Regions from separate parts of the Homo sapiens genome. Here region 2 is linked to region 1. The links come from fine-mapping of genetic effects on plasma protein levels. A gene starts in region 1. The other region holds a variant in brackets. All regions are shown on one strand. Distances are between the middles of the regions. Region 1 holds the start of MSLN (mesothelin). Region 2 overlaps RPUSD1 (RNA pseudouridine synthase domain containing 1).

Evidence for each region. PIP is the chance, under the fine-mapping model, that this variant and not a neighbour inherited with it causes the effect. The UK Biobank Pharma Proteomics Project read protein levels with antibody pairs (Olink). The fine-mapping took linkage between variants from a reference panel, not from the people measured, so its PIPs are less certain.
Region 2: its variant is fine-mapped to the plasma level of the MSLN protein (UK Biobank, PIP 0.96).

Annotation. Positions count from the first base shown.
Region 1 is chr16:759,120-762,011 of GRCh38, forward strand. It overlaps MSLN (mesothelin), which reads left to right and starts at 1,615. Exons shown (of 18, transcript NM_005823.6): 1 at 1,615-1,702; 2 at 1,954-2,055. RefSeq lists promoters at 196-2,045, 1,551-2,031, 1,553-1,571 and enhancers at 862-1,387, 1,553-1,571.
Region 2 is chr16:782,198-785,089 of GRCh38, forward strand. RPUSD1 (RNA pseudouridine synthase domain containing 1) reads right to left here. Exons shown (of 6, transcript NM_058192.3): 6 at 2,777-2,892. Among named protein-coding and RNA genes, the nearest start is that of RPUSD1, 4.7 kb to the right of the region's middle. The variant C/A (reference allele first, on the strand shown) is at 1,530.

The sequences.
Region 1 (2,892 bases):
CGCCCACCTCGGCCTACCAAAGTGCTGGGATGACAGGCGTGCGCCACCACACAGGGCCTCATTTAAAGATTCTTTATAGAGATGAGGTGTCACTACGTTGCCCAGGCTGGTCTTGAACTTCTGGCCTCAACGGACCCTCCCGCATCGGCCTCCCACGGTGCTGGCTGAAGGGTGAGCCCAGGCTGGCCACAGCGCGTTTTCATCATTGTCCGCAGCTTGCAGTCGGCTGGTTCAGAGCTTAGCCGGGCACATGGGCCCCTCTGAGGCTCCTGTTCAGGGCTCAGCCGTGTCTACGGGGCCCTCCGAGCTCTTCCTGGACCCTCCTCGGCTCCTTCAGTTCAGGGCTCAGCTGGGCACGTGGGCGCCTCCTTGGCTCCTCCGGCTCAGGCCTCTCCTCGAGCTCTGGGCCCTGAGTATTCTGGGCTCCTTCCTTGGTTTCCTTTGGCCTTTGGCCGGGAAAGTTGTGGGTGTCCGTGGCAGCCTGGGCCACTTCACAGCCCCGCAGCCAACCTGCGGCTCCTTCAGAGCAAAGCTGTGTGGACACAAAGGGAACGCCACTCGGAGCTGGCCTCTCCCTTTACCTGTGAGTTCCCGCCCAAGCCGGCTGCCTTCTGTCCCCTCCCCAGAGCCCTTGGGTAACTGGTTTGCTACAAGAGTGTCTGGAATTTTTCAGTTGTTCTCTGCGGAAGGGAGTTTTTAAAAGGCCCTTAATCCCTTCTTGACATTTGTAAGTTGACGCTTACACCTGGCAGCCTTGCTGAATTCTGTGTGCGTGAAGGTCCGATTCCACCGCGAGTCACGATAGAAAACCCACTCTGTGGAGAGACCAGAGATGACCGCCGCGCACACCTCCGTTCAGCACACAAACCTTTGCAGGTGTTCATAGCGGAGGCAGATTCCGTACTGGGGATAAGAGCTCACGACATGCTGGGAGGGGTTTCAGGGGCAGGGAGGGGGCTTCTGTGGCCCCAGGTCAGGAGGAGCAGCTCTTCCATCAGCAGCAGGCAGCCAGCCCAGATGCGTAGGGAAGACAGCTCCCACTTCGCCAGGCCAGAGAGCGCCCGGGGGCAGCTCTGTTCCAGTCGACCCTGCGAGAAAGGGGTGTGCGTGTGCCTGGAGCTGGGCCCCGTCCTGCCTCCCTGACCTGTGTGCTCCCACAGCCCTGAGACGGACGGCTCACAGCCTTGCGAGGCCCACACTGCACTGGGGGTCAGGCTTGTGCTCCCGGGAGTCCTGTCTGGGCTGCGTGGCCACCATCCAGAGCCTGCTGACCTGCGACTGGGGGGGCCAGTGCTCCCTGGGTTTCAGCACCTGAGAATCAGAGTGGGATCCCGTGAAACCTGGGCCCAGGCTCCCACCCACGCCCCACACCCACCCAGGGAAGCCATGAAACCTGGGCCCGGGCTCCTACACATGCCCCACACCCACCCAGGGCAGCCGTGAAACCTGGGCCCGGGCTCCCACCCTCGCCCACCGAGGGCAGCTTTGCCTTCCTGGGCATCCCTCCTCCCCCAGGCCTGGCCCGCTGCCTGTCCAAGGCTCCTGTGCGGGGTCTCCACCCACACATTCCTGGGGCGTGAGGCGCCACCACTCCCTGCTGCCCCGGGCAAAGCCGTCATTTGTTCCCTTTGACGGCCCGGGAGGCTGCCAGGCTCTCCACCCCCACTTCCCAATTGAGGAAACCGAGGCAGAGGAGGCTCAGGTGTGGCCAATCACCCTGCACATCAGAGTTACCCTGGGCAGGGCCCACTGAGACCTGGGAGGGGCCACTCGGGACCTGGAGGGCTGGGGGCTGCCCGGGCGTTAGGGGTAAAGCTCCCTACCCAACTGCGCAGAAGGCCTCAGAGGCCTGGGGGCTGGGCTTCCCCTTTCACATCGCCCTTTAGAGGCCCACGTGTGGGCATTGGCCCGCGATCTGAAAGGGGCTGTCCTGTTCCTCATGGGCGCTGCCAGCGCCACGCACTCCTCTTTCTGCCTGGCCGGCCACTCCCGTCTGCTGTGACGCGCGGACAGAGAGCTACCGGTGGACCCACGGTGCCTCCCTCCCTGGGATCTGTAAGTAACAACCTTTGAGCTCTTCCTGTTGTGGTGTGGATGGAATCTGCACCTTCCATCTGGAGAACTGGGGCCGCCCCAGGCCGGGCTTCCAGCACCAGAGCGATGGTCAGGCTTCAGCTGGACGCAGATTTCACCCCGCAGGGCACACGCAGACCCATTTGTTTGGAAGCGGCAGTCCTAAGGCAGTGCAGGTGCCTCCACGGCCCCAGCCCAGCTCTCCTGCAGGTGTAAAGGATGCAGATTCCAGGGCCCCCCATGGCCTGCAGAGGCCCCTCAGAGCAGGAAGGGCCGGGCTCTCGGGGAGCCCCCATCCCAGGTGCTGAGGTCCTTGGGTCACATGGAGCTGGGGTGGGGAGTGCCCAGGTCCCCTGTGATCCGATGGCCACGTTTCCCTCCTGGCTTCACGCACCCCAAGGGCTGGGGGTCCCACTCACTGCCCATTTTCTGGCTGTGGGGGGGGTCTGTTTTCTTCCACCTTCTCAAGGTGTTCAGAGCCTCAGGGGCCTCCCCACTTCCTCTGGGGCCTGGGGGAGTAGAGTCTGTCACCCGGAGGCTGTGTGCCTCCCCGCGACATTCCCCAGTGGCCGGGCCGACCAGGCAGGCTCTGCCTGTGGATGGGGCTGCTGAGCATGAGCGTGTGACCCCCATTTCTGAGCTGTGGGTGGACCCACCGGGCCTGGGCCAAGGTTTTCAGGAGGCAGCTCTATTCTACTCCGCCATGGTGGCCTCCCTGAAAGGGGTGAGTGTAGAAGCCAGTTCCCTCTTCTGCGAGCCCCACCCCTACCCCAGGAGGACAATTCTTGTTCAGGGAGGGTCTCCCCACCCACTTCCCCA
Region 2 (2,892 bases), 23 kb after region 1:
ACCTTCGAGGGGAAAGGATCCCATAAACAGTAAAAGGCAGGAGCAGGGAGCGGGAGCCGGGTGAAACCCTGGGGCCTTTCTTATTGCAGGTCGGGGCCTAGGGGACCCATGGGCTGCTGGGTCTCCAATGAACAGATTTCCAACAAACAGCGAGTCCCCCAGGCAGCCTCGTGCAGCCCTGGCTTCATCCCCACACCCGGCAGCCCTGGCAGCTCCCTTTCCCTCTTTGAGCCCCAGCTGTTGGGCTCTTTCGCTGACATCCAGCCCCCAGTGGCAGCTGGGGTAGCCTCAACCATGCTGGAAATGGAAGCTGCAAGGCCAGGGACCCTAGAGGAGTCCGGTACTGCTGTGGGTCACTGCCTCCTCCTGGAGCCAGCCTGATGGCTTTTGGGCACCTCTGGGCCTCCTGACTGTGGCCCAGGAGGGAGACAGGGAGGCTGCCCCATGCAGAGGCAAATGCAGAGGTTCAGGCCCAGCCACAGGTCCGGGACCGGCCCTGCGGGTGGGCTGGTGGTGGCTCCCGCCAGCGTTTCTCACCTGAGCAGAAACCCTGGGTGTGGTGGAGGGAGGTGCTGCCCAGGCTGTGGGGTGGCTGCTCCTGGCAGGGAGTTGTGGACCAGGTGATCCAGACGCAATCCCAGCCCGCCAAGTGCGTCAGCCGCTACCACTGAGCGCCCGGGTGCAGAGGCGGTGCAGGGCGGGGATGCCGGGGTCCCCGCTCACCTCCATGCCTGGCCTGGCAGGCGGCATGAGACTGCCTCGCCCCGCCCAGTCCCACTCCCACGGTGACGCCCGCCAGGCAGTCCTGTGGGGGAGGCCCGGGCTGTGCCAGGCGATGCACCGCGTCAGCCCCTGGGGACCTCAGGCACAATGGGCACCTACTCCCTTCCCCTAGAGCAAAGGCTGAGCTCACGGCTGGCAGCTGCCCAGCTCACACCCCTCCCCACCCACTGGGGCCCTGCTCTGCAGCGTCTGTGCCCCAGGGGTCATGTCGTGCGCCTGCACCTGAGTCTGCCGTGTTTGCTGGTGCCTGCGTGTGCACAGGTGCCTCTCGGGCCTCCTGGTCTGTGTGCCCGGGAGCACGGACACAGATCCACCATGTGTGCCTCTGCGGGGACATCAGGCAGACGAGTACCCAATGCGGGGGCCAGGAATGGTGACGGCTGCGGCCATTCCGTGGGTGCCGCAGCTCAGAGGTGGGCAGGCAAGAGCACCCAAGTATGCACTGTCGGGCTCCACCAGGCAGGCCAGGGCAGGAGAAGACACAGGAGGGACTTCCCAGCCCACCTGCCAGGCTTCTCCCCTCACTGGGACAGGGTGCTGGGTGACCCAGGCTGAGCCCTGGCCTGGCCCACCTACCCCAGCTCTCATCTTGGGAGAGACTCAGCCCCTGCTTGGCAGGACCTGCAGCTCAGGTTCAGCTGTGGAACCACCACCCCCTGCACCACAGCTATGCTATGGGTGCCCAACAAGCCAGCTCCATGGCCAAGCTGAGACTTGACCCCCGATCTGGGTCTTCTGGAGGCTGA[C/A]GGCAGGGGAACTGGTAGGTGACTGCTCCCCAGGCCTGCACAAGCCCACAGGAACCCAGGTGCCCCTTTGAGAGCTCTAGGCTGACAACGAGGCACGGGCACCATGAGGGACGGCGCTCAGGCCTGGCTTGTTGATGAGGGTCCGGCTCAGGTCAGGCCTTGAAGGCCCCTTGGCCGGCTGTCAGCTGGGCCAGCCCAGCTGGACACAGCGGCTCCAACAGCTGCTGTTGGGGCAGTGAGGTCGGCAGCCCCCAGTCTAGAGGGGTGGGGCCCCGTGGGGCAGGGTGGGGAGACTGTCCCAGCCAGAGAGGGGAGGCGTGCCTGGCCCTGACTTGGGCTGATTCAGACAAGGACCAGGAGGAGGCCTGGAGATAAGCCAGCCCTGGGGGAGGGGAGGCCGGGGCCAGGTGCCCGAGGGTGGACACGTCCCGGGGCTGGCCAGGGAGGAGCCTCGAGAGTGATGGGCGTGCTGGCCGGGAGGGCTTTGCTGCCGCACTCTGTTGGGGTGGCCGACTGGTGCTACTTGAGGGTTATGCGGTCCCTTCGGATCTGCACCAGCCCCTTCCTTTACAGATGAGGAAACTGAGTCATGGGAGCAGCAGCAGTGAGTCCAGGGCCTGTGGCCTCACCTCAGGGACTCTGGGGCTGGAACCCACGTCTCGGCTGAGGGCACGGTGGCAGCTGCCTCCAGTCGGGCCCCGGTGGGGACTCCGGGTCTGGAACCCGCGTCTCGGCTGAGGACACGGTGGCAGCTGCCTCCGGTCTGGGCCCCGGTGGGGACTCCGGGTCTGGAACCCGCATCTCGGCTGAGGGCACGGTGGCAGCTGCCTCTGGTCCAGGCCCTGCTGCTGTCACCGCTGGGGTCGTAACCAGGGTTTCAGGGCTGGCCCCGGAGCTGGACAGTGGCAGGCAGGGGCCAGGCGGACCTGAGACCAAGTGCTGGCCCATGAGATGCCCCTTCCACAGAGCTCTGAGACTTGGGCTCTACGAAGATCCCTGGCTGGACCAGCTGGGTATTCCCATGGCTCTGGTTGTGGGGGCTGGGGGTTGTCCGGGGCCGGCCCAGGGTCTGTGCCCAGGCCAAAGCTGCACGGTGCTTGCTGTCTGCAGGAGAGGCCGATAGGAGCCTGGACCACTGCGTCTGTCCTGGGTCCTGCTGGGGCCTCAGGGCAGGGAAGAGAGCTAGGAAAGGTCTGGGTGGCCAGACCTGTCCCTTGGAAGCCCCACTTCGGACACGTTCACGGTCATCCTTGGAGCCAGTCACTGAACATTTATTTGGAGTCCCTGGAGCCCTGCTGTAGCCAGGAGCCCAGGTTGTGGCATGGGGGACAGAGGAGGTGGGACCTGGCAGACCCACAGCTCC